Linked DNA regions of Homo sapiens. The protein of the gene in region 1 interacts with the protein of each later gene in a pairwise test. Each region holds a gene or a part of one and is shown on either strand. Other genes may lie near its edges.

The links.
Region 2: the proteins of ZNF438 (region 1) and MAGOHB interact in binary tests that used the Homo sapiens proteins (3 or more experiments, as listed by UniProt).
Region 3: the proteins of ZNF438 (region 1) and TBC1D22B interact in binary tests that used the Homo sapiens proteins (3 or more experiments, as listed by UniProt).
Region 4: the proteins of ZNF438 (region 1) and ZNF202 interact in binary tests that used the Homo sapiens proteins (3 or more experiments, as listed by UniProt).

Annotation. Positions count from the first base shown.
Region 1 is NC_000010.11:31,021,857-31,028,885, forward strand, and holds part of ZNF438 (zinc finger protein 438), read right to left. Parts: intron 2,548-7,029; exon of another isoform or gene 1,564-2,547; intron 1-1,563. UniProt on the Homo sapiens protein: Isoform 1 acts as a transcriptional repressor.
Region 2 is NC_000012.12:10,603,672-10,610,617, forward strand, and holds the end of MAGOHB (protein mago nashi homolog 2), read right to left. Parts: intron 6,271-6,946; coding exon 6,160-6,270; intron 5,713-6,159; exon of another isoform or gene 5,427-5,712; intron 4,266-5,426; coding exon 4,183-4,265; intron 2,704-4,182; coding exon 2,604-2,703; 3' UTR 522-2,603; downstream 1-521. UniProt on the Homo sapiens protein: Required for pre-mRNA splicing as component of the spliceosome. Plays a redundant role with MAGOH in the exon junction complex and in the nonsense-mediated decay (NMD) pathway.
Region 3 is NC_000006.12:37,260,761-37,267,789, reverse strand, and holds part of TBC1D22B (TBC1 domain family member 22B), read right to left. Parts: intron 1-7,029. UniProt on the Homo sapiens protein: May act as a GTPase-activating protein for Rab family protein(s).
Region 4 is NC_000011.10:123,731,634-123,738,662, forward strand, and holds part of ZNF202 (zinc finger protein 202), read right to left. Parts: intron 39-7,029; exon of another isoform or gene 1-38. UniProt on the Homo sapiens protein: Transcriptional repressor that binds to elements found predominantly in genes that participate in lipid metabolism.

The DNA.
Region 1 (7,029 bases):
GACAAATGACCAATTGAGAGCAATCATTGAAGTTGATCGTCTTACAGCTAAGTGAGAAGCTGCCAAAGAACTCAACATTGACCATTCTACGGTCGTTTGGCATTTGAAGCAAATTGGAAAGTTGAAAAAGCTCAATAAATGGGTGCCTCAGGACCTGAAGGAAAATTTTTTAAAATTGTCATTTTGAAGTGCCATCTTATACTACACAACAATAATGAACCATTTCTCAATCGGATTGTGACGTGTGACAAAAAGTGGATTTTATACGACAACTGGCAACGACCAGCTCAGTGGCTGGACCCAGAAGCTCCAAAGCACTTCCCAAAACCAAACTTGCACCAAAAAAAGGTCATAGTCACTGTTTGGTGGCCTGCTGCCGCTCTGATCCACTACAGCTTTCTTCCTTTTTTTTTTCTTTTTTTTGAGACGGAGTCTCACTCTGTCACCCAGGCTGGAATGCAGTGGTACAATCTCAACTCACTGCAACCTCTGCCTCCGAGGTTCAAGCAATTCTCCTGCCTCAGCCTCTCAAGTAGCTGGAACTACAGGTGCACACCACCATGCCTGGCCAATTTTGTATTTTTAGTAGAGACAGGGTTTCGCAATGTTGGCCAGGCTGGTCTCGAACTCCTGACCTCAGGTGATCCACCCACCTCGGCCTCCCAAAGTGCTGGGATTACAGGCGTGAGCCACCACACCTGGCCCACTACAGCTTTCTGAATCCTGGTGAAACCATTACATCTGAGAAGTACACTCAGCAAATCAATGAGATGCACTGAAAACTGCAACACCTGCAGCCAGCGTTGGTCAACAGAAAGGGCCCAATTCTTCTTCATGACAATGCCCAACCGCACGACACACAACAAACGCTTCGAAAGCTGAATGCATTGAGCTATGAAGTTTGCCTCATCCGCCATATTCACCTGACCTCTTGTCAACCACCACTTCTTCAAGCATCTCGACAACTATTTGAAAGGAAAATGCTTCCAAAACCAGCAGGTTTTTGGAAAGCAGAAAATGCTTTCCAAATCCCAAAGCATGAATTTTTAAGCTACAGGAATGAACAAACTTATTTCTCATTGGCAAAAATGTGTTGATTATAATGCTTCCTGCTCTGATTAATAAAGACGTGTCTGAGCCGACTTATAATGATTTAAAATTCACGGTCCAAAACCGCAATTACTTTTGCACCAACCTAATACTTTATATAAATGGTACTATGATCTAATAATTATAGTAACATGATTTGCAAATACTAAAATATTTTGCTTGCCTTGTTCTATAAAATATATGTAATATAATCACTAATCTTTCATAATGTTGATCAGAATACTTTCCAAGTAACATTCAAAAAGTAATCACTTCTAGATGTATCTCTAATAACAGCAAAAACAACAGACTTCTAGATCTATAATTCGGCATCTATCAAGACTAATTGTGGCAGGCACATAATATAACACACTCCCAAAAGAGAAAAAAAATAGACATAACCTTCACCATAGACAGCACAGCCTTCACCATAATTTTTAAAGCATTAATATATTTCCACAAATAATATATTACCTCTTGAACTACATATAAAAATAATCCTTGAGGCAGCCTGGGTTCCAAATATATTGTCCTGAAATTGATAGACAGAAAACAAGTGATATTTGTACATCCATTTTTCTTTTAAGTTTCAGAAGAAAAGCAAAATCAAAAGTATGTTATATTAGCGCCATAGCTAACATCAACATGTTTGACATAAAAAGTACGTATTCTTCAACTTCAAGAAAGGAAAAGATTGTTCTTTGGCTCTAGTCCTAAGCTGGAAACAAGTAACCACAAAACCAGTTTTAAATCTACCCCAGTCAATCCATCCTTAAAGTCTACTCAACCTTTCCACTTAAGCACTTTGCCAACAAAGTAAGCCAATCAGCAACTGCCCCGCTTCAGTACCTTTGCTCCTCAAAGCCGGTCAGTCTCTAAACTCTAAGTTTAAAGCTGGCTAATCCTTAAATTTTTGCACTTTTCAAAATCAGCCAATCTCAAACTCTGTGCTTCCTCAAAACCCTACATAAAAACGTCTCTGCCTGTTTAAAGGACTGTCTTCTGCAAGCACGGTTCTCCCCTACCCAGCAAGTATGGTTTACCAAAACTCAGGTAAGTTTCTACTTAAGTCAAATTAGAATAGGCTTACAAACACTGAATTACCAATGATTCAAGTGGCAACATGAGTTTCAAGAAACCTAATTAAGTTAGGCAAAGATTCTGTGAATTTATCCAGAAATTGTCAGATTTATTTATTGGAGAATATCTGAAGACACAGAATAGCTCAGTGGAAACAGCCAAACTACATTATGAGTTGGGTGGCACTGAATAGGTTATTTAATATCTCTAAACCAACTTCTTTTTCTATAAAATGAGAGTAATAACTCTATTTCACAGTATTGTCAAGAAGATTAAATGGGATAACAATAACTGGTAACTTTAAAAGATTCCTAGGTACGGCCGAGCGCAGTGGCTTACGCCTGTAATCCTAGCACTTCGGGAGGTGAAGGCGGGCGGATCACGAGGTCAGGAGATCGAGACCATCCTGGCTAACACGGTGAAAACCCGCCTCTACTAAAAAAATACAAAAAATTAGCCGGGCTTGGTGGCGGGTGCCTGCAGTCCTAGCTACTAGGGAGGCTGAGGCAAGAGAATGGCGTGAACCCGGGAGGCGGAGCTTGCAGTGAGCCAAGATCGCGCCACTGCGCTCCAGCCTGAGCGACAGAGCGAGACTCTGTCTCAAAAAAAAAAAAAGATTCCTAGGTATAAAGTTCTAGATTTGCTTTCATCACTAACTTATTAACACATATGGAAAGTCATTTAACCTAAGTCTGTTTCTTCATTGGTCTAATAGTGAGGATAATGCATGCCCTACACATTTTATGGGCTGTTTGTAACAATCAAAAATGAAAATTAATGTGAAAAGGATTTTGACAGATATAAACCATGAAACTGTGAAATAGCTAATTTAACATATACAACAATAAAGGGAATTCACACTAGGAAACCTGTTACAATCCAGGATTATATAAAGTCCAGATTAAATTAATTTTAGTAAGAAAAATATTCATAGCCAAAAACAAATACAAAACCACTAGACACACTAGCAACCAAAAAAATTCAAGGCTACTATTATTAGCTCCAAGAATTATTTCCCATTCAGTAAATGAACCAAATTAGCTCAGCTATCCAACAAACTAAAAGCAGTACAACACAATCCTTTGTCCAAGTCAGGCATTTGCCACTTAAAACTACCACCTCCATTTCTAAAGCAAAAAAATAAAAAAATAAAAAAGGAGGAACAGAAGGAAGGAGGGAGTGAAGGAAGAAAAGATATTACAGAATTTCTCAACATCAGGAGTACTGACATTTTGAACTGGATAATTTTCTGTTGTTGAGAAGTTGTCTTGTACATTGTGGGACATTCAGTGACATGCTATAATGGCCTCAATCCACTAGATGCTAGGAGTAATGTCCCCACACACAAATGTGACAACCAAAAATGTTTTCTAGACATTGCCAAATGTCCCCAGAGTGTGTTGGAAAGTAAAAAATCATTCTGAGTTCAGATTCTTCACAGTATCATCTTCCAGTATTTATTTCACACTGCTTGGTGGCTTGCAATGCAGACTGAAATTAATAGCTTTGCAATTGAAGAACCAAATAAGAAAATACTCCCTGTAGAATAGTAACAACTTGAAGAATAATAGCTACGTAGTTATGGTTAAATTATTCCTTTCATCGACATACTGGTTTTGCTTACTATTCCCTAAGAATTTTCTTCTGGGTGTTCTTTTGGGGTTAAAACTTGGTTAACCTGTCACTAAAGCTTAGTCTCCACCTAGACTTACTAATTATTAGCCATTAGTGTAATGTGTTAAAATCAAACCTAAAGATTTTAATTTTTAAGCAACCAAATGTGAAATGAAGCAAAAATAAGTGCTACTTATATAAATTATTTAAATATATTCAAACATTTAGAGTGTAAAGTACACAAACAAGCATCCAGCTACTACTACAAATATATATGAGTTGAAGATAATAATGCAAAAATAAAAGTGATTGCAAGAAGTAGAATTTTGACAAAAACAAGAAATGGGGAAAGGATTCCCTATTTAATAAACGGTGCTGGGAAAACTGGCTAGCCATATTGAGAAAGCTGAAACTGGATTCCTTCCTTACACTTTATACCAAAATTAATTCAAGATGGATTAAAGACTTACATGTTAGACCTAAAACCATAAAAACCCTGGAAGAAAACCTAGGCAATACCATTCAGGACATAGGCATGGGCAAGGACTTCATGTCTAAAACACCAAAAGCAATGGCAACAAAAGCCAAAACTGACAAATGGGATCTAATTAAACTAAAGAGCTTCTGCACAGCAAAAGAAACTACCATAAAGAGTGAACAGGCAACCTACAGAATGGGAGAAAATTTTTGCAATCTACCCATCTGACAAAGGGCTAATATCCACAATCTACAAAGAACTTAAACAAATTTACAAGAAAAAATCAAACAACCCCATCAACAAGTGTGCAAAGGATATGAACAGACACTTCTCAAAAGAAGACATTTATGCAGCCAACAGACACATGAAAAAATGCTCATCATCACTGGCCATCAGAGAAATGCAAATCAAAACCACAATGAGATACCATTTCACACCAGTTAGATTGGCGATCATTAAAAAGTCAGGAAACAACAGGTGCTGGAGAGGATGTGGAGAAATAGGAACACTTTTACATTGTTGGTGGGACTGTAAACTAGTTCAAACACTGTGGAAGACAGTGTGGCGATTCCTCAAGGATCTAGAACTAGAAATACCATTTGGCCCAGCCATCCCATGACTGGGTATATACCCAAAGGACTATAAATCATGCTGCCATAAAGAGACATGCACACGTATGTTTATTGTGGCACTATTCACAATAGCAAAGACTTGGAACCAACCCAAATGTCCATCAATGATAGACTGGATTAAGAAAATGTGGCACATATACACCATGGAATACTATGCAGCCATAAAAAAAGGATGAGTTCATGTCCTTTGTAGAGACATGGATGAAGCTGGAAACCATCATTCTGAGCAAACTTTCACAAGGACAGAAAACCACACACCACATGTTCTCACTCACAGGTGGGAATTGAACAATGAGAACACTTGGACACAGGGTGGGGACCATCACATACCAGTGCCTGTCGTGGGGTCGGGGGAGGGGGAAGGGATAGCATTAGGAGACATACCTAATGTAAATGACGAGTTAATGGGTGCAGCACACCAACATGGGACATGTATACATATGTAACAAACCTGCATGTTGTGCTCATGTACCCTAGAACTTAAAGTATAATTTAAAAAATAAATTTAATTAAAAAAAGAATTATATTTAAATGCTCAGTATGTACTATCACTGGGCTAGACACACTGTTTTCAACAATAAATCTTCATATATATAAAAGTACTCATAAAATAGTTTAAAATTTGCTTGTGCAAATGTAAATTTTAAAAGGAATCTGAATTTTATTTACTATCTAGGATGTTATATTTCGCATGGTCAGTGTTAGAAACAGAGGGTCCTGTTGTTTTCAGATAGAACTTACCATCACTCCCCCTCTGCTGGGAGCTACCTGACACAATTAAATAACCATCAACCTGCCCTCACTGTGCCTGAACTTAAAAGTCAATAACACCTGAGCATCAATAGGCTATTGACTATGCAATTTTACTTTATACCATATATGGGTATCTGATGTTCCTGGGAAACTAACTGCAAATGTGGTGTAAATAAAGACTAATCATTTCAACTCCATTAAATGTAGGGAAGCTACAAGAGCAGATTTAAAACGTTGTGAACTGCAAAATGAGATGGCACCCCTCTACATTTACGTTAGTAGAGGGCTTCTGTTTAGAGTAATCATAGATCTGGTTATTTAGATACTTTCCCAATGAAAGCTTAAAACAAAATATAATTTTATATATTTTTAAAAATTCTGAAATTAACCATAAAATCTACGGCAGTGCAATTTTATATAATTCTTACATGGTTTAAATTTGAAATACTCATGTTAGGAAGTAACAAAATTGTGACAACTGTTGAGGTTATGGTATGCCATGAAAGATCTACGGGAACAAGACACATCTTTTTTTGTTTGTATTTTTCTAGTCTCCATGTTCTACAATGATCCAGCTATACGAGATGTAATCTGCAATTCCACCTACAATATATATCACCAGATCCCCTTTCTATGACAAAAAAAAAATACATGTCAATGTTAGAGATGGTCAGCAAAGAAACTCAAACTTATTCCAATAGGTGGAACTTTGGCATGACACACTTAAACCGGTGGAAACCTGCCTGAATACTTCACCCAACCCCTCCATCACCCTCTATTATGCAAGCTGCAACATTTCAAGCCAACTCCCTTATTTCTCTGGTGAGCCCTGTCAACACTGAGGTAATAGAACTGGAAAAACTCATCACTTCAAAAGGACAGTCAAATATCAGAATTTATTTCATTTGGTAAAAATTCTATCATTGCCAAATAAAGCTAATGCAAATATAGTAAAATATGCATGATTTTGAGTAATTCTTTTGTTGAAAAGGACTCTTGGGGAGCCTCAACTTCATCCTGCAACAGCTTAGGCATTCTTTTGCCCCTTTGCCCTTTTCATGCCCCATCTCACAAGTCATGGAAGCTGGGGAGGGGAGGGTGCAGAAAACCCAAATGAACTAATCGGCATGTATTTATGCATTTAGTCTACTCTAATTTTATTCCCACAGGTTTTTCCTCATACCCTGCTCCTCTAAGGTAAAGAACTGTTTTATTCATCTCTGAACTTCCAAAACCTAACCAAATGCCCATTATATAAAGTCATCCCTAACATCTACTACACAGCAGGCACTGGATTAGGGACTAGAGATAGAGAAGTCAAAGAGACAGACCTTGCCCCTACGGAACCTACAGTGGGGAATACCAGATACTGGCTGCATGAAC
Region 2 (6,946 bases), on another chromosome or scaffold:
GGTAGATGCCAGAGATTTTGAGTGGTAGTTATCCAACTTTACTGATCATCATACGGAAGTCAGCCAAGGCAGATTCTGAACTCACCCTCAAATCCTTCATTTACCTTTGTTGTTTATTAAATTTTTAAAATTTTCTATTCGACTTCATTATCCATTCATGCTAGGAATCCAGTTATTAATTAAAGGGGTCAGTGGTTAAACTTACAGCACAGTCCATGCTCATAGGTTCACACATTTCAAATCAAAACGAAGTAGTCTAACAATAGAATATATAAATCATCTCAGTTACATTAATATTTACATTAAAAATATCCATACAAATAGACTCAGCCTGATACCAATGAAATACCAAAGATAAATAATCTAAAGGCAAATAATCTAAGGACAGAGCAAGACAGCAACCAATTCAACAAACTTAAAAAACACCTACTATATGGAAAAGACTGTGCTAGGGTTCTGCACTATCTCATGAATGGGGAAGAGGTGGGATGAGGTGCAGACAGTACTTGGAAAAAGTCTGATTATTTCAAGTGGTCTCTTTATTAAGGAAGGAGGTAAAAGGAACATAACCTGAGCGCAATAAAAATCTAGTTTCATATAAAACTAGTATTATACAAAATTCAGTTTCTAATGATCACTGTCCATCAGCAACTTACAATCAAATAAAAGACAGATCAAAGTATAAGAAAATTGTAGACGGTAATATTTTCCTAATGACCTAGTCTCCCATCTTGGTTTAAATATGAGAAATTCTAGTAGATAGTGGGGATAGAGCTAAATAAACGAAAACGTAAGGAAGTTAGAGAACGGGGACAAAGACTTAAAGATTTTTCAACGTAAGCACTATTTCTCCTCAACCTTGTTCAGTTTTTAATGGATCATCTTATTCAACAGGAGCCACAACCTGTTTTGAGGAACAACCAACAACTGTGGGCCTACTGGAAGTTCAAAAGACGATTGTTCCTGTTTCTGAGGTTGACATCTAAATGCAAGAAAATTACAATACGATTTCATACTGCACAATCATCAAGGTCTACAACTGGAACAGAAACATTTTACATACAAAAGACCTGAAGATGATAGCGTACTTGCATAATGAAGTGGAAATCATTTGACTTTCCATGGCAAACCTGAAGACAATGGGCATGCATTTTGAGGAGTGAAAAGGACCATCTAGTGCTCCATGGCAAACAGGTTACCAAGCCATGCTCTAGAGCTATACTGTCCAAACGGTAGCCGCTAGACACGTGGCTACCTAAATTTAATCAAAATTAAATAGCACTACAAAAAAAGTAGTTTATTGGCACCAATTACACCAGTTAAGTGAAAAACCAAGATTTATTATAATAGAGATATTACAGTAAAAAAGATGTTAAGTATAGAATCTAGGTAGGGGTAGGCATATAGGTGTTCACTTTATAGTTCTCAAGAGTTTTTAATGTTTTATCCTTTTCACGTTAGAAAAAAATTGTTTAAATAGCACCATAAATTCAGTTATACAAGGCACACCTCAAGTAATCAGTAGGCCTCATTTGGCCAGTTGCTACCCTATTGGACTGCACATAGAACGTTTCCATTATTGCAAAAAAGTTATTGGACTGCCCGACTCTAGAGCCTACCTGCTCAGGAGTCCTGGCAAGCCTTCAGAAACTAATTATTCCACCCAAAATTCAGTGCTAACTTGTTCCTAGGGCAAGTGGATTATAACTACTGGAACAGTGCAACTTTTTAAGAGTGGGGCTTCAGATGGAAGAATAAAAGGAAACAAGGAACATGGTTACTAAAAGTAATGAAAGAGGAAATCTATCAGAAAGAGGTTGAAAGGAACTGGGAAACTGAAGTGAGACTCGTGGTCAATAGGAGTTAAAAATATTTATGTACATTCATACATACATATATGTTTGTCTAAATGTTTAACAATTTATAAAGCTGAAAACTCATTTAGTTCTCCCCCCTCCCCTACACACCAAATACATTGTGAAATAAGGAATAAAGACATAATCAAAGATATGCCTAACATGGGGTAGACTGTACTCTTGTAACACTTTAGGACCTCACTGCTTATAACTGAAAATATTTAAATGTGAATAATCCCTGAGGGGTTTGTCATAACTGTAAAAAAAAACTAGACCTTGTATAAGCCCCCCAAAATTAAATCCAATCATGTATGAAGGAAATAAGGGACAATCTACACTTGCCTTTCATGGATGGGAATCTGGCTACATAGTTCCACCTAAAGTATCTTCTGTCACAGGATATATCTACCAGAACAATTTCTTATTATCTCTAAAGTGAATTAGAGACATAGCCTCCTGGAAAAAACAAAAAACTACTCTGCAACCAGGATTTGGTATGTTTTATTAGAGCAAATTTTTAACAAAAGGTGGCTTTCATTTACAGAATTTAATGTGTGTGGGGACTGTCCAACCCATATGGACTCAAGTAAGGATAACCATTAAGCTTGCTAATGTATTTTCTTATTTTCAGTTTACATACAAATTTTTTTTGTTTGCTTCACATTCATAAAAACCCCAATACTGTAAATGACAAATAACCCCTCCCATCCCTTAATTAAATATACAAACAGCCTGAAAACATACAATTTAAATTGGTTTAATCTTGAAGTGTAATCCAATAAGACTGAAAACTAAACATTTCAAGTCTTGTACCAAATAGTAAAATACTCGAAGGCCTTCAGGATCCCTAAAATTTAAAAAGGTAAAAGTTACTTTTTCTTCCTAGGATAAAACAATTCTTTAAATGCCTAAAACAAAACAAATCAAAATCTCATAACAATTAAGTTAACAAAATTTAGGAGAAAGGAAGGATTTTGCTGACAACTAAAATGAACATACAATTAATATCTTTTCTATACGAAAAAATAGTTTCTTCATCAGTATTCATTTTAGTATTTAAAGAGTTCATATCCTTATGATTGTAATAACCACATCATAAAAATGTCTAATAAAGCAGAAAAAAATAATACTGTAATGCTACCATTTCATAGAATAACTATAAACATTTTGATGTTTCTCTATTTTTTAATAACTAAAATTATTCCTTGTGCCCTTTTTTACATTACTTTCCCCACAGCATTAAAAAAAAAAAATTCCCTAGTAATTTTTAATTAATTTAATAATTCTCTCCTTGTTAGACACTGGGGTTAATTTCCTATTATAAATAATACTTCAATGAGCATCTTCATGCATAATAAAGCTTTTCCAATATTTAGGAATAGTTCCATAGAAGAGATGCTCAGAAATGAAATTACTAGGCCAAAGGTGAATGAAAAATGTCAACAGTTTTTGATGCATATTACCAAACTGCTTTCCAAAAACCATTACCAATTTATAATCCCAGTAGGGTATCAATGCCACACCCTTACCAAATGTAGGAAAAGAAATTTGATAGTTTAAAAGCATTTGGATGGTCTTTGTGAACACAGATTTTGCGTCCAATAGTTATCATGCATTCATTCCTTTCTCCTTTCCACTAACAAATATTTATTGAAAGCATCTATTATGTGCAGGGCACTATGCTAACTCTGTGGATACAGCAAGGTTCTCAAGGAGCTTACATTCAAACCAGTAAAGCAGACAAATAGGTTATTACAATTCAGGGTGACAGAAAAAAGTAAGAGCACTATGGGGACACTTTGAGGGGAATGGGCACAAATAAAAATAAGTGGCTAGGATCAGACCAAGAAAATGGGATGTGCTACAAAACCCTGGGGCAGAGGAGAGACAGATCTTGGGAAGACATCGATAGCTAAAGCATACTTAGGCCATAATGGATTTTTTCCATCTTTTTCCCAAGTATTGAGCCCAAGAAGGACAGTGAGATGATATAGGCCTAATGAGGCTGACATAATCCAATAAGGATTTCTTTCCTTTGGATTTGCTGATACTGTATCCACATTTTTATACAAAGTAGCTAATACAACTTGGGCATTATTATATACAGCTGTTGGATTAAAAGTTTTTGGACAATCAATGAAATACTCTGCTAACTTCTACTGAGAGACAAGATAATAAGCCTTTAATGACATAAAAATCAGGATTACATCTGCATAATAAACTGATAGGATGCCACTGAAATTATCTTGGCTAGCAAACTGACTATAGTTCTAAAATGAGCCTCTGTAATAATGAAAACTTCGCCAAAATGCTTTAACATACTTACTTTGACTGATTTACATCAATAAGAGAACCTATTTTTGATGTGGTAAAAGATATGTGCTCATCTCCAATTACAATTTCAAGCTCCTAAAAAATATAGCAGAAAAATGTAGTTAATATAAAAATCTATCCCAGAGGTATCTGTATTCTTGCTACAAGCAGATCCCAATTTTAGTTGCAAGTTTTCTAGCAGCCAACAGAGGGAGTGGGGGGCGAGGGGGAAAGAAACATGGTTTCTTAGATATAAACTATATCCTTAAAATAAAGACTGCTCACGCGCACTACCCCCAAGTTTAGGACCAACAAAGAATTGCTTTCCAGAGACATAAAGAAGACACTATGAAACAAAATGACAAAGAAATATTTCTTACAATGTCAGTAAAAACTAAAGACATCACTTTGAAGCACATGTTGTAAAAATGATTGGAGTATAAGACCATTTTTAATATGATAAATACACATTTTTTCTTTCTGGAAGATTCTACAAATAAAATGTGTAATATTAATAACCACCACCACTTTAGCACCTACTGTATGTCAGGCCCTAGTGGTAGGGACTTTGTACTCTCTGTAATCTTGAAAATAACCTTACTAACCTATTTTACAAATGTGTAATCCAAAACTCATAGAGCAGAAGAAAATACTTGTTGATATTTATAACCACTAATAATGATGGTACTTATATTTGATCCCAAGATGGTAAGACTTCAAAACTAATACTCCACAAAATAACTAAAATTAAGAACTAGTAAAAAAAAAAAAAAAAAACCAACCTAATGTAGATGTTCCTAGTGTGCTGTAATTACTGTATAGATTTTTCCCTATATTGTTTATCTGCAGGCCTAAAACCAATAATTAAAAAGCTATATCTGTAATGAATCTTCAAGTTAACAGACACTATTGAAGACAATCCTAGCTATTTATTTAATCAGAGGCCTAATTATGCAGTTTATGACACACACAGAATGGAGAATTAGCTAAGATGCTCTAACAGCCATAAAACCTTTGACTTGATACAAAAGGCAATTTCTGAAGCATGCCTACTCCTCCCCACTAACCAAAACCCATGAACACATCCTTAAGTGAATAGATAAAATACTAGGCTCTCCCTGAGTCTAAATGATATAAAAGGTTAGCTGCTGTGGTTTGCTTTTTAGTACATATGTGTATCTGCATAAAACAAACTGAGGCCTAAATTTACTTTTTAAAAGTGATACGATGCTTAAAATAAATACTGTTAACTATTACCTTTGCTTTTCTAAATAATGCTTCTTTAAGCAGAAGACTTAAGTTACTCCTACAGAGTGTCAGCATGTGTTAGATTTCTCCACATTTTCTTCTATTCAAAGAAGGTGATACAAAGTACAATCCTCAGGGATATACAAAAGTGAAATTAAATGTTTCTTCCTTCCAGGGGTTGTTGAAGGAATTTCTCCAAGAGTTGAAAAGACCCAATTCAGAAACCAAACTTTCTTTTTACAGAGTGAAATTAGGCCTTCAGAGTTCTTCAGAAGCCTGAGAAACATCATTTATTCTGAAGGAATATGAGAGGGAAATGCAATCATCAGTTTTAACAAAGAAACCACCAATCAAGTTTCTCTCTGGGGTATAGGGATGCAAGTAAGAATTTTAGAAGTTATGATTTGGCAAAAATAAATTTTACATAGTCATATTCTTAATAAAAGTGATTAACACACAACAGAAATTATTCATAACACTGCATTGTGAAAACATCCTAACGTTGGCTGGGGTGACTACAGAGAAAGATGTCTAAATTTAGAGCTATGCACTGACTCCTTCACTACTAGGAGGTAGCACAGAAAAACAGAACTAAGAGATAAAATTAAAGAGAATTTACCAGGTGCCTATTAAATAGAAAGCCAAAGAATCAACTTAGACTCATTCCAAATAAATAACGGGAAACAAAATAGTATTATCAATTTTTAATATTTATACACTTAAAGAATCACTAAATACAAACCTGTCGGCCAACCCTATCAGGGGGAGGCCACAAAGCATCATCTTCTTTTGTAATTTCACTGTCATCAATAATTCTCTTCAGTTCTTCCATTACACTCTTGTGCACATAAGCCTAAAAATTAATCATAATAAAATGAGATAATGCCCACCTATGTCACCCCTCAACTCAGAAAGAAATGAGTTACAAACCCTGAATATCCAAATAGAGGAATATAGAAAAATTTAATTGATTCCAAAAGTAGAGGAGACAGAATCACTTATCCTTGTTACACTGCTTTTCTTCATCTCTTGCCCTTTCCTTTCACATACATTTTTTCCCTCTTCTCATCATTACCTGTCTTTCAAACACTGTATTCTGCCTTTGCAACACTGAGATCCAAATACCCACAAGTGGTTAACTTGTGTCATCACAAGATCTATAAGGTGAACTGTAATAAATGCAAGTATACTGAGGCAGGAGAATCGCTTGAGCCTGGGAGGCAGAGGTTGCAGTGAGCTGAGATCAAGCCACTGCACTCCAGCTTGGGTAACAGAGCGAGACTCTGTCCCTAAATCAATAAATCAATAAATGCAAGTGTAGTTCACGTCAAGGTTAGTTCTCTGAACTTTCTCATTCCTATGGATGCAAACACTGTATCTAATTTAAATGGAAACTCTTTCAATCTATAAATTGCCTTCTTCTTTACAATATAGCCTTAGATGTACTTTTTTAAATTCAACACAGACTTGAAGAAAATGGGCTAAATGCAAAAAAAAAAAAAAAAAAAAAAAAGACATTCACATAGAAC
Region 3 (7,029 bases), on another chromosome or scaffold:
TGGATGTTTTACGACAGAAAATAAAACCAAGAAAAATAATATAATCAACTAGAAGCAGGTGGGAAGAGAGGGGTGAGGAAATATACTTACTAATTTCATCATTACTCATGGTAGGGAGCCAACAGGTACTGTCTGAAGAAATATGGTATAAAGTTACACTTATAAACACAATCACTAAAATAAAAAGATAAATCTTCCAAATTATCAGAATATATATATGTGTGTGTGTATATATATATGTGTATATATATATTATATATATAGTGTATATATATATTATATATATAGTGTATATATATTATATATAGTGTATATATATTATATATATGTGTATATATATATTATATATGTGTGTATATATATTATATGTGTATATATATATTATATATGTGTGTATATATATATTATATATGTGTGTATATATATTATATATGTGTGTATATATATATTATATATGTGTGTGTGTATATATATATATATATGTATGTCCTCCCCTCAAAAGCAAGCACAGTCCACATAGTGAAAGACTTTTTTAAGAAGAAAATATTTTTAAAAGGGCAAGCATGGTAGCTCACATCTGTAATCCCAGGACTTTGGGATGCTGAGGTGTGAGAACTGCTTGAGGCTAGAAGTTTGACCAGCCTGAGCAACGTAGCAAGACCTTGTACCTACAAAAAATTTAAAAATTAGCCAACTGTGGTGGTGCATGCTTGTACTTCTAGCTACTTGGGAGGCTGAGGTGAGAGGATTACTTGAACCCAGGAGTTTGAGACTACAGTGACCTATCATCGTGTCACTGCACTATAGCCTGGGCAACAGAGTAAGTCCTTATCTCAAAAAAAAAAAAAAAAAAAAAAAAGACGAAGAAAATATTAAAAATTGAACTTAAACTAAATAACTAAATATATCAGTTATTCCAATAAATATAAAGGAGCTAACTTACCTATTAAAATAGAAAGGATAATTACCAACAGGAAAGTAGTTAAATAAATTACAGTATATCTTTTAAAAAGAATGAGGCAGTTCTGGCCAGGTGCGGTGGCTCACGCCTGTAATCCCAGCACTTGGGGAGGCCAAAGCAGGCAGATCACCTAAGCTCAGGAGTTCAAGACCAGCCTGGCCAACATGGTGAAACCCCATCTCTACTAAAAAATACAAAAATTAGCCGGGCATGGTGGCAGGCACCTGTAATCCCAACTACTCAGGAGGCTGAGGCGGGAGAATGGCTTGAGCTGGGGAGGCGGAGGTTGCAGTGGGCCGAGATTGTACCACTGCACTCCAGCTTGGGGGACAGAGCAAGACTCCGTCTCAAAAAAAAAAAAAGAATGAGGCAGTTCTATATTCACTGACATGAAATAAACTCAGACATTAATTGAAAAAAGATGCAGAACTACATGTATGACACCATTTTTATAAAAATCTTTAAAATAGATACATGCATTTTATGTATGATTAGGTCTATGTATCTGAAAGAATATCAGAGTATCTGAAAGAATACAAAAGACACTGGTAGCAGCAGTTTGGAATAGGAACCAGATGACTGGAAGATGATGGGACACCAAAGAGACTTAGTTTTCACTGCAAACCCTTTCTGATTTAGTATCATGTACAAGTATCACCTTTATAAGAAATAAGCGATCTTGAGAAGGTTAGAAGGTTTAAGTGGGACGATATGTTGAAAGCCCTTTAGCACAATTCCTGGTGGGTGGTAATGCTAATTTAATGTTAAGCAGGAAGTGACGTAGATTTGCAAATGTTAGAACACTACCCAGCAAACACTCAGTGCCCAAGAAATGTTGATTTTCTTCCTCCCTCCCATTTTTATAATTTAATCCATACTCAACATTTAGAAATTGAAACAAGCTTACCAAATACTTGTTTCACATAACAGAGGTGATCCTAAAGGATGCTCTTAAATAAAAATATAGCCAAATCAATCACTTTCACATTGATTCCTATTAAGATTTCAGAGGAAATCTTACATATAATCTTTAATTTATGAATACAGTCCCTACTTCTTTAGCTATAAGAATCTTTACTCCCTAAACCTCTCTGGAAGATTAATAAGTAATGTGTAAGCAAACTATTACATATATTACTACAGAAATACAAACTTTGAAAACAATACTAATTGATGTGTTTAAAGGGTTTCCTAGGCAGAGAGAAAAAAAGAGGAATCAAAGAGTAAAGGGAAAGTTCTGCTGAGAGAGGAAGGGGGTGTTAGACACCCCCACTGACCACGGGAAAAAAAAAAAAACCCAAAGGGCTACTGATATGCACATTAGCAGCTGCAAATAATCTAAGAGTACACCTGAATTCTTCAAGCCCACAAGCCCTCCTCACAATAAAATATAAAATCAGAGGATAAACTGCAGGAAGATCTCAACAGGCCGGTTAGGTAAGGTGACTGGGTAGAAAAATAAGAGAGTATTACCTTAAAGAAGTATTACCATCTGCCAGTAACCCATGCAGAAGAAAAGCAAACCTAATTTGTGCAGGCTGAAGGGCCAGAGGCCATCAATTACCATCTAGGAAAGGAATCTTAAAATCACAGTAGACTATTTTTTAAAGCTGTCAGCCCAAGGTGCTGGCATAGCCAGGAAGGCTAAGATAAATGATGGACTTCATCAGCAAAGGTATCAGGGCCCAAATTGAATTTGTTAACATATTCTTGAACTGAACCATGATGTATCTAAAACTGGAACACTTTGTATAATAAATCAGCTTATTGCAGCTTAAAAAAGACAGGCAAGAATTTAGAAAAGAGAAACCGAGATGATCACAGAGACTAAATGGAGATAGACCAGAAGAGCCCAATGATTAAGGTGCTCAATTTCCTGACATTTATAATTCACCTTTCACTGTCTGTACCATACCTACTCCTTCCAAACCCAAACTCAGCTCTAAGAAAGACTGATCTCCACTCCACCTTCCAAACTTATTAAACCCATTATTAAATAAGGCTCTTTTCCCTACTTGGAATGCTTTTCTATTTTCTACATCCCTTTTCAAAATTGTATCCATCCTGCAACATTCTCTTCAAATTCTACACCCCTCATGAAACTTTCCATACCCCTACCCCCAGCATCTACTAACTCATGTCTTCTCTAGTTCCCTAACATACATAAATTAGGGCTTATATTACTTTTTAAAAATAAACTAGATTTAGATCATAATATAAGACACAATCAGGGCTGGGCACTGTAATCCCTGCACTTTGAGAGGCCGAGGCAGGCAGATCACTTGAGTCCAGCAGTTCGAGACTGGCCTGGCCAACACAGCAAAACCCCATCTCTACTAAAAATAAAAATTAGCTGGGCTTGGTGGCACACATCTGTAATCCCAGCTACTCAGGACGCTGAGGCACAAGAATTGCTTGAGTCTGGGAGGCAGAGGTTGCGGTGAGCCGAGATCGTGCCATTGCACTCCAGCCAGGGCAACAAGAGTGAAACCCCGTGTCAAAAACAAAACAAAACCAAACAAAACAAAACACCCTGGCATACCCCTCCCTCCCTTCCTAGCAAGCCACTCTATTGGATCTGGCATTTTTCACACTCATTTTTATATTTTTATTTTCTATGTATGTATCCCTAAATAATGTATGATTTTGCATGTTTTTTAAACTTTATATAAATAACATCACACTGTAAATATGACTTATTTTGACTCTAAATCATGTTACTTTAAATTTTACTTAATTCCATGGCTAACTGGCTGATCTCTCCAACACAAGTTAAAAAAAAAAAATACAAAACATTTGCTCTAACACAAGTGAAAAAGCATTTAATTGACATTTTCAAACACAAAGAAAAGTACAGAAAATGATATAATAAACATCCACAAACCCATCACTCTGATTTACAAATGTTAACATTTGTCACATTTCATTTAAGAAAAAAAGTGTTAGGCCGGTCATAGTGGCTCACGCCTGTAATCCCAGCACTTTGGGAGGCCAAGGTGGGTGGGTCATGAGGTCAGGAGATCAAGACTATCCTGGCCAAAATGGTGAAACCCCATCTCTACTGAAAATACAAGAAAATTAGCTGGGTGTGGTGGCACGCATCTGTAGTCCCAGCTACTCGGGAGGCCAAGGCAGGAGAATCGCTTGAACCCGGGAGGCGGAAGTTGCAGTGAGCGGAGATCGGGCCACTGCACTCCAGCCTGGCAACAGAGTAAGACTCCATGTCAAAAAAACAAAACAAAACAAAACAAAAACAAAGTGTTAGACTACTGATGCCCTAATTGCAGTCCCTAGTCCTGTTTCTTCACTTCCCAAGAGATAACAATTATTCTGAAATTGGAGGGAACTCCTCCCATCTGTTTTTATTCCTCTACATATATTCACAGATCCATAAACAACACACAGTATTTTTTATGTTTTTAAACTTCACATAAAAGACTGCACATTGCACATATCTTTCTACATCTTGCTCTTTGCATTCAACAATGTGTTTTCACCCAATTCCACTTTTAAGTTTGTCTGATTACAAATATAACATATGTTTAGTGGAAAAACCAGAAAGTCAATCATACACAGCATCTTCTCCAGGGGAAGCCATGATGCCAAGCAGATTTTTTAGCTCCTAGAAAGCCATAGTGGTGCCATATCTTTTTCTGTAGCCCCCTTGCCACCTGGCAGAGCATGACACATACCAGCAGGCACTTAACAATATTTAGTAAGTGAAGATTAGATCTCTACAAAACCTAGGCCTCCACTTAAGCTAGACCTAAAAACCAGAGGTTAGTTAACACACTGCATCTCGAAGAAATCACACCACATATGCAGAGAAAAGAATGCCATGGAATATGCTGCCACGCAGACAAAATGGAACAAAAGTTCTGATTAATCTCCGTCACTCTCTTTAATAAAACCAACACCATAGAATGTATTGACATAGCTGTTTTGCCTAGTTGAAACAGTGCAAACATCTTGGTAGGAAAAATCAACAGGTGTTTGTTTAGCACTGATAAAAGAGCTAGTGCAAATATGGGAAAAAGACCCATCAAATTTAAATGCCAAACGTGTTGGCAACTGATGTAGGTTCACACACTCACTCCACATTAGTCTTCCAGAACAGGTGATCTATGCTGTTTCGATGATAATTTAGTATCTTCTAGTCACTCACTCTACCAGTAAAACATCTCCAAGCCAAGAACAAGTTGTAATGTACCTGCCCAGACAGGCTGTGACTTTTACACTAAGTCTCCTATCAGATTCATTATTATTTTAGGATCGGCTTCAAGTTCTTAACTTGGCCTCTCTTTCTAACAACGAAGGGCCTGGAAGACTCAGGTAATTTCGATTTTGGCCAGACGCAGAGGCTCATGCCTGTAATCCCAACACTTTTGGAGGATGAAGTGGGCAGACTGCTTGAGCCCAGGAGTTCATGACCAGCCTGGGCAACATGGCAAGACCTGTCTCTACAAAAAATACAAAAATTAGCCAGGGCTGGGCACGGTGGCTCACACCTATAATCTCAGAACTTTGGGAGGCTGAGGTGGGCTTGAGGTCAAGAGATCACTTGAGGTCAAGAGTTCAAGACCAGCCTGGCCAACATGGCGAAACCCCCTTCTCTACTAAAAATACAAAAATTAGCTGGGCATGGTGGCATGTGCCTGTAATCCCAGCTACTCAGGAGGCTGAGGCAGGAGACTCGTTTAATCCTGGGAGGTAGAGGCTGCAGTGAGCTGAGATCGTGCCACTGCACTCCAGCCTGGGCAACAGAGGGAGACCCCATCTCAAAAAAAAAAAAAAAAAGGTGATTTTTTTTTTCTCCTGTGCCCGAGCTCTAGACACACACACACACACACACACACACACACACACACACACACACACACACACTGACCAAAGCTTTTTTATTTTTCCCCCATAGGTTTGTGCCACCAAGCCCAGATAATTTTTTTGTGTGTTTTTAGTAGAGACGGAGATTCACCATGTTGGCCAGGCTGGTCTCGAACTCCTGACCTCAAATGATCCACCTGTCTCAGCCTCCCAAAGTGCTGGGATTACAGGTGTGAGCCACCACACCCAACCAGATCAAAGCTTTTCAATTTCAGTTTCAAAAACTGAAGCAAGGAGAGAAAACAAAAATGATAGCTACTATCATCGTAACTATCCTTCTTATAATAGCTAATATTATTGTGTACCTCCTAACCAATTATTATGTATTATCTCATTTAATCCTCATAACAGCCCCATGGAGCAGATACTCTGTCCCTATTTTAGAGATGGGGAGACTGATGCATTGAGAGGTTAATTAAATCCCATAAGATCACATAGCTAGAAAGCAGAGCTGGGATTTTAACCTAGGCAGTCAGATTTCAGAGCCTGCATTTTTTTTTTTTTTTTTTTTTGGAGACAATCTCTTGCTCTGTTGCCCAGGCTGGAGTGGAGTGACGCAATCTCAGTTCACTGCAACCTCCGTCTCCCAGGTTCAAGAGATTCTTGGGCATCAGCCTCCTGAGTAGCTGGGACTACAGGCACACACCACCAAGCCCAGCTAATTTGTATTTTTAGTAGAGATGGGGGGTTTCACCACGTTGGCCAGGCTGGTCTCGGACTCCTGGCCTCAAGCGATCCACCTGCCTCAGCCTTCCAAAATTCTGGGATTACAGGCCACCACACCTGCCAAAGCCTGCAATGGTAGAGATTGCCTCTTATCTTCTAGGCATTAATACAATGACCATTTGATGTGCTAAGTAAATGGGGCTCATGTGAATAACTGAGAGAACTTAAAAGATGCTTAGTTCCACCAAGTTACTACATGACCCAGCAATTCCACTCCTATTTATCAGCAGAAGAATAGAAAATATATATCCAAACAAAAACCTCTGCATAAATGTTCATAAAAGCATTACGTACAATAGCCCAAAAGTGAAAACAATTCAAATATCCATCAACTGATGAATGAACAAAATGTGGTGTATGTATACTATGGAATATTATTCAGCCATAAAATGGAATGAAGTACTGATACATACTACAGCGTGGACAAGCCTGAAATCACTGTGCTTAATAAAAGAAGC
Region 4 (7,029 bases), on another chromosome or scaffold:
TAGGCAAGTTCTCATTCTCCTAATGCCAGTTTCTCTGTCTATAGAAGGGAGATAATAATGGTTTTTATCTAATAGGCTTACTGTAAGGATTAAATGTATTACTAAAGCCTATGAGCATTAAATGTATTACTATCTTTGCTTAGAAGAGTGATGGCACCAGCTATTATCTTTCTAAATTATAGTTCCAACTATATTACTCAGTATTTTAAAACAAAACCTTTTTCATGTTAGTAAAATCAGTTCCAAAATCCTGGGAATGACACGAAGCTCTTTACAATCAGCCCCCAATCTATTTTTCAAGCTTCAGATCCTACCTTTTCCCTGTATCACCTGGTTATAAAAAATGCATTGCTGATCTCCCTACAACAGGGTGTCTTTTCAGTCTTCCATGTCTTTTTGAAGGTTGTTCCTTCTGCACAGGCTACTCTCCACCCTTCTCCTTTCCACGCTACATGGTGTGTTCTCTTTCTTTTTAACGGGTCTTGTCTTTATTCCCACAATTTACAGCTTAGGTCCCTCTCACTTCTCATCTGGATGACTGCAACTGCCTCCAAATGTGAGCTATCTGCCTCCAGATTTGTCACCTTCACGTACCCACTATGATCAGAACGAGCTCTCTTGGCAAACGTGCTCATGTCCCTTTCCTATCTAAGATCCTTCCATCACTCCCCGCTGTCTTGTTAAGTGAAATACAAACTTCAAACATTCTACATTAGGTTGACGTTCATCTTGTTATTCTCTTCGCCCTCCTCTCCAATCCTTTCAGACACACACGCACACACGTGTGTACATGCAAAGCACACAAGAGTCCCGTGTTCTTTAGCTTTTGAATATGCTGTTTCTTCTGATTCTTTATCCTTGGTTAGGTTAAACTTTAAATTTTTCAAGACATAAGCTCAAGCTTCATGTCTTCTGAGATGTTTTCTTTGATCCCATTTCCCCTACTCTCAGACATAGTTAGAAATCACCTAAGTCCTCCCGTAGTGACCTGGGCACCTCTCTATCCCAGTATTGGTCATATTACATAGCCATCGCTCATCTTTCCTGTGAAACTCTTTGAGGTCAGAGACTATTTTCCATCAATCTCCAATACCTATAATAAAGTGCACAATAAATGCATTTAAAATGAATAAAACTCTACTCCAAAGCTTCTTCCTATGGTAACAGGAAGAACCATTGTTTCCTCCATTATGCTTTTACTATCTCTTGATTATTCACCATATCCTGTTAATTCCAACTTCCAAAAAATGTCTTTCGAATCCATCCATCTCTTCATCTCTACTGCCATTTCCCGGTTGAGCCATTATGACCCACTAGAAGGTATTCATAGGAACTTTAAAAAAAATTACAATATCCTCTGCTCCTAAACGGCACTGGCACGTAACAGGCACGGATACATTGGAGAGATGACTTAGTTCAACCTCCATGACTGGTTTTCTTGGTCCTGTCCCCCTCCAGACCAGTGTCCACAAGCAGCTTAAGGGCTCCATCATTTCTCAACCTTTTTGTGCTATACTACAGTTGCCTCACATCCACATTCAAGGTTATCGATCCACTCTTAATAGCTGTGTCTCATCTATTGTTGCCCATCAAATGAGTTTACAGTCAATGATCACATTATCTTCATTCTTTCTCAAAACGCTTCTAATTCATGCTCTTATGACATTTTTTTCATTACCCTCAGTCACTTGCAACATACTTTCACAGTCTATCTTGGATAGCTCCCTAATTCCTAGATCTTCATGTGTAATTTTTCCTCTGCTATCTCTACCTCATGGTGATTTATTTTTTTCTCAAGTGGCTTGTAATTTTTTTATTTTATGTCCATCTTTTTACTTTGGGAGTCCTGAGAGCCCTGGATTTAAATGTGAGCCCCTTGAATGTAATTTCATTTGTTTCTTCCTAAGTGCTAATGGTTTCAATGATCTTGGACAGTTTGCTTTTTTAAGACTCTCCCTCTGTTGCCCAGGCTGGAGTGCAGTAGTACAATCATAGCTCACTACAGCCTGGATCTCCTGGCCTCAAGTGATTTTCCAACCTTGGCCTCCCAAAGCACTGTTACCAGAGGCTGAGCCACCATGCCTGGCCAAATCAGTTTTTATGTTAATTTCTCAGGGTGTTCCTGAATAATGCTTTTGTGTATTATTTAGATCGATGCCTTCAAGTAATGTTTGGCCTACCCAAGGTTCTGGAGAACCCACTTCCTTGCACTTTTCCTGGGTCAGTAGGACGATTTTCAAAGGTCCAGGTTTGCAGGCTGCTTAATTCTGTAACTTTCACACAGCGTCAGCTTCCCAAGTCCTATCTCCCTGTTGGAGTACCAGTATTAAAAGCTCAATCCCTAGAAACCTTATTTTGGTTTGGAATCTCACTGCGCCATGGTAAAGTCAGCTTATACTTATTTTTCTAGTGGTTATTTCTTTTTCCTTCTGGAACCTATGCGCTTTCCTTTAGCTTTTGAGAGAGAGAGACAGAGAGAGAGAGAGAGACAGACACACAGGGAGAGACAGACACACAGGGAGAGACAGCATGGGCTGTCCTGTTCCTGACAGGAACAGGATTTAATAATGGGCAGGAGGCCCATCCACATTAGCTCCACCTGCAATACTCCAAGTAGGTGAGTGGTGAACTTCCTAACATACAAAATCTGCCAATGGCTTCCCAGTGACCTTAGGTTAAAATTTAAACTTCTTAAAATGTGATACACAAAGACCTTCAAAAGCTGGTCCCTGCTACCTCTCCTTCCTTCCATGACTGCCACTCCCATTGAAAGCCACTGCAAGAATTACTGTTCTTTCTTTTCTATACCCTCCCTGGGCTTTCCTGATGCTGTTCACCTTGTCTGAAGTACCCTTCTCCACTCTTCATGTGGTTAACTCTATCCATCTTTCAGAGCTCAGTTTTTCCAAGATGCCTTCCCTGGTCCTCCCAGATGATGCTTCCACAGGAACTTGTATCTCCCCCTATCACAGCATGCACATGTGTCTATTTTTTGTGTCATCAAAACTGTTCATCTTCTGTTGAACTCACTGGACTGTAAAGCTCTGAGGGCAGGGATATGCTGTGCCCAGCTCGATGCCTGGCACACACCAGGCACTCACTTCACATTTGATGAATGCAGAGAATGCTTAGTAAGGTTTTAAAAGTCTGTTTCCAGAAGGATAGATACCATGTTATATTAACCCATATTCATCCATAAGTCTAGCAAACTGTGTGCTGGATAAAGGCATACATAGGGAAAAAAACATTTATTGTTTGGATTGTGAGTAAAACAGAATTCTCTTAGTGGTTCCCAAGATGATGGAACCACAACTCATCACAAGGAATCTTCAGGTTGCACCGGGAATAATCCAAATGCAAGTCACACAACACTTGGCATTTGAAAAAAAAAAAATCATTTTCCATTGAGGATTTAAATCAATTTTAATAAGCGCAAAATCAGACATCAAATAAATGGAACTACAATACTAATTATTTATCCAGACAAAGCTTTCCAAACCCCACCCCAACTCCTACCCCTGGAAGACAGAATTAATACATAGGGTCTTTTGGCTTAATAAAAGGACTTCTAGTATCTTAAAAGTTTGAGAACCGACGTCCAGTGAAGTAGACTTGGAATCCTCATTGTTTTCACGCAGCACTAGGTACAAGAGATTCCACAGTATGGATCCTACAACGTATGCATTGACAGAAGAGTTCCTGCTCTCTCAAAGGGCTTTGCTCTCCAAAGAAAAAAGAACATGTAACAGTGCCACACCAAACTTGCCATTTAAAAATGCCCTTCAGAAATCACAAGCTGAGATTTCTGGTGCTTGTTTTGCATTTACTTTGGCAGCCTAGGAAGATGAAGGAAAACAGATCAGCAATAGAAGGAATGAAGGAAGGAGTCTTTGTGGGGTAAGAGATGGGAAATGAATAGGAGGTACAGCAGTGCTGTGCACAGCACCAAACTGGGTATCCAAAGACATATGCCCCGGCCCCAGATCCCCAAGAAACTGGAGCTTCCCTGAGGGTTTCGTGAAGTAACGTACCCAAGAGCCCTTGTAAAGGATAAAGCCCTCTGCAGATAACCAGTCTCCTAACTCAGTGATTATCTGAGATATGAGAGCTTTATGAACTAAAATGTGTTGTGCAAATGTCAAGATTTAATATTAGAGGCAGAAAACAGATGTTGTGTTTTTATTCTATAATTAATGGGATGTGCTATGCCATAAGTATACCTTGCAATTTGTTGCCTTTGCTATTCTAATACCTTTCTTCAATGTCTGTCCTTGGAAGAGTTCCAGAGTAAGACAAAAACTATAGAGAGAATACAATAGAGAGAATATGAAACCAGGCCAGGATTAAGTAAGAGACTTGGTTCCAGAAGACACTAAAACAGTATCTGCAAAGATACAACCTAGTGTCTTGAGTGTTCCTAGGATGCATAGGATTGGAGAGGAGCTATCAAGGTAAGACCTCTGTACAATCCTCAGGCCAGCTGTCTCTGCCCCTTATCTGAAGGTGTCACGTGGCAGTGAAGACCCAAGCTCAATTCTCTTACAAGAACAGAAAACCACAGGCAATGAAACAATATCTAGTTCTCTACCTTAAAACGCTACTAGCTAGGGTGATCTTTCTGGACCCTAAATGACAAAGTCTGTAGTCATATACCATCAACCTAAAGGAGAGACAGTGATCTGCCTATGTACTGGCAAATAATCTTCAGAAGAAAATAGTGATTAGAACTGAAATTATTATATTTAGCAGATATTTATATCCCTTCCAGTCCCCATTCTTATTTTATACCTTAATGCAGGCCTATAGTTTGGTAATTTTAATACAACTACTTGCTGGGGCTAACCAGGGCCTGTCAACAGCTCCTCTCAGTGTTCTAGAATAGAAATTGGCTAATAAAAACTGTTAACCGCTCTTTTCCAATGCTGCTGCTGTTCTTTAAAACGAAAGATTAGCCCAGTACAATCCTTCTAATGGACATATTCTTTTATTCTTGATTGTCCTATATACAAGCGCTTACCTAAGCTTTCCACATAATGGTTAGTGGCCTTGGCACGCTGGGTTTGAATCCCTGACCTCGAATCCCTGACCTCGCTTATTAGCCTTGTAACACAATTTCCCTAAGCCTCAGTCTTATCCTCAAAAATGTGGCTAATACTACTTATCTCATGTGGTTGTTTTAAGGAGTAAATGAAATAACCTATAGAAACCCTTCAGTATAGAGTCTGGCATAGGGTAGGTGCTCAATATATTTTATTCATTTTCCTTCAAGCTATTTGAAATCGTTTTGGGAAGAAGGCAAGATTTAAATGATAAACAAGCAAACAGTTCTCTATTGCATCATAATTACAAAAAAACAGATGGCATAAGGAAAATCTTGGTCGGTCTATTGTTATATCAAAGAAACCATGCTAAACCAAAAAAAAAATCCTTGCTTTGGAGGCACTTATGAAGTAGGATTAAATGAAAGTGTTGGAATACAGATGAGAAGGAACCTTAGACACAGGTTCTCCCACCGAAGACCATATCAGCAATGCTTCTAATTACCAATATATCAAAGTCCTCTCCACTCCCTGTAACTGGCAGGAGACAATCTGAGGCAAACTCAGTGTACCAAGAAGTCCTGTGAAAACTTAACCTAGACAGCACAATGAATGAAAGGGAATGAATTCCCTGGCTTTTGGCCTTCTAACACGTGACCAGTATGCTTCAAAACATGTTTAAAACTGTTTCTGTAAAATATTTTTGCCACCTAAGTTTCCCCCCCGCCCCTTCATAAAAGTGATATTTGAGTAGTGAGGGGAGAAATGGCTCAAAATTTGTTACAAGAGGTTCCAAAGAAAGACAATAAGGTATAGAGAAAGGGAAGACAGGAAGAAAGAGAAAGAGGTCAAGTATGTAGTGGATAGTACAGGGAAGTCACAAGTATCTTCTGTCTGGAAATGCTGCAGATTTTGTGGTTAGCCTCAAGATATTAGGTGGGAATAAACATGTCATTGAGAGTAAATGTAAACACAAAAATGAAAAATAAAAATTGTAACAATTCACTTTATTCTAAACTGTTTTTGATGGTTATATATGGCAGGCCTAGGAGGCAATGTTAGACAGTAGATAGTTGCCTTCGGCGGAGGGTGACCTGTGTTCTGTCCACTGCTCTACATTGTAAAGAGGTGTCATCTTGGACAAGTCACGGCAGCTCATGTTGAGTCTTGGGATGATTCTTTATCTAAAGGTAGAGAACTGAACCAGCTTTTTGATGGTGATGAGGAGGGGTTTTGAGAGGAACAAGGATATACAGCATCTCTATTGAATATTTGGGCCATAATGTAACAGCCTAGGATGCTGAGATTTACTCAAGAGCTGAGGACGGCTAGGGGCCAAACACAGATTTTTAAGTTTTGAGATAGGGTTTACTCTGTTGCTAAGACTGGAGTGCAGTGGCAAGATCACAACTCACTGCAATCTCTGCCTCCCAGGTTCAGGCCATCCTCCCACCCCAGCCTCCTAAGTATCTGGGACTACAGCACATGCCACCATGCCCAGCTAATGTTTAAATTTTTTATAGAGAAGGGGTCTTGCCATGTTGCCCAGGCTGGTCTCAAATACCTGGGCTCAAGTGATCTGCCAGCTTTGGCCTCCCAAAGTGTTAGGATTACAGGTGTGAGCCACTGCACCCAGCCTCAAATACAGATTTTTAAGAGGCCAGATTTATACACCTGGCCATCATGGTCATGTTGGTTAACCTCCATCATGAAGCTAGGCTTTTTAACCTTCAGGAAAACTACCCCAGAGCAGTTAATGGCCTAAATAAAGGAGGTCAAGCTATATGTCTCAGTTTAAAACAGAACATGACAAATTAACCTGAAGCAGGAAAAGGAGGGGACATCAAACCTGACACCCATCCTGATAAGAGTAACTGCTCTCATTTGACAGCCAGAGTTAAACTAGATGTATGCAATCTCTACAACAAACATAGTCAATGCCAATCAGATAGTCAGAGGAACCATCATTTAATGGGAAATAACGCAATAA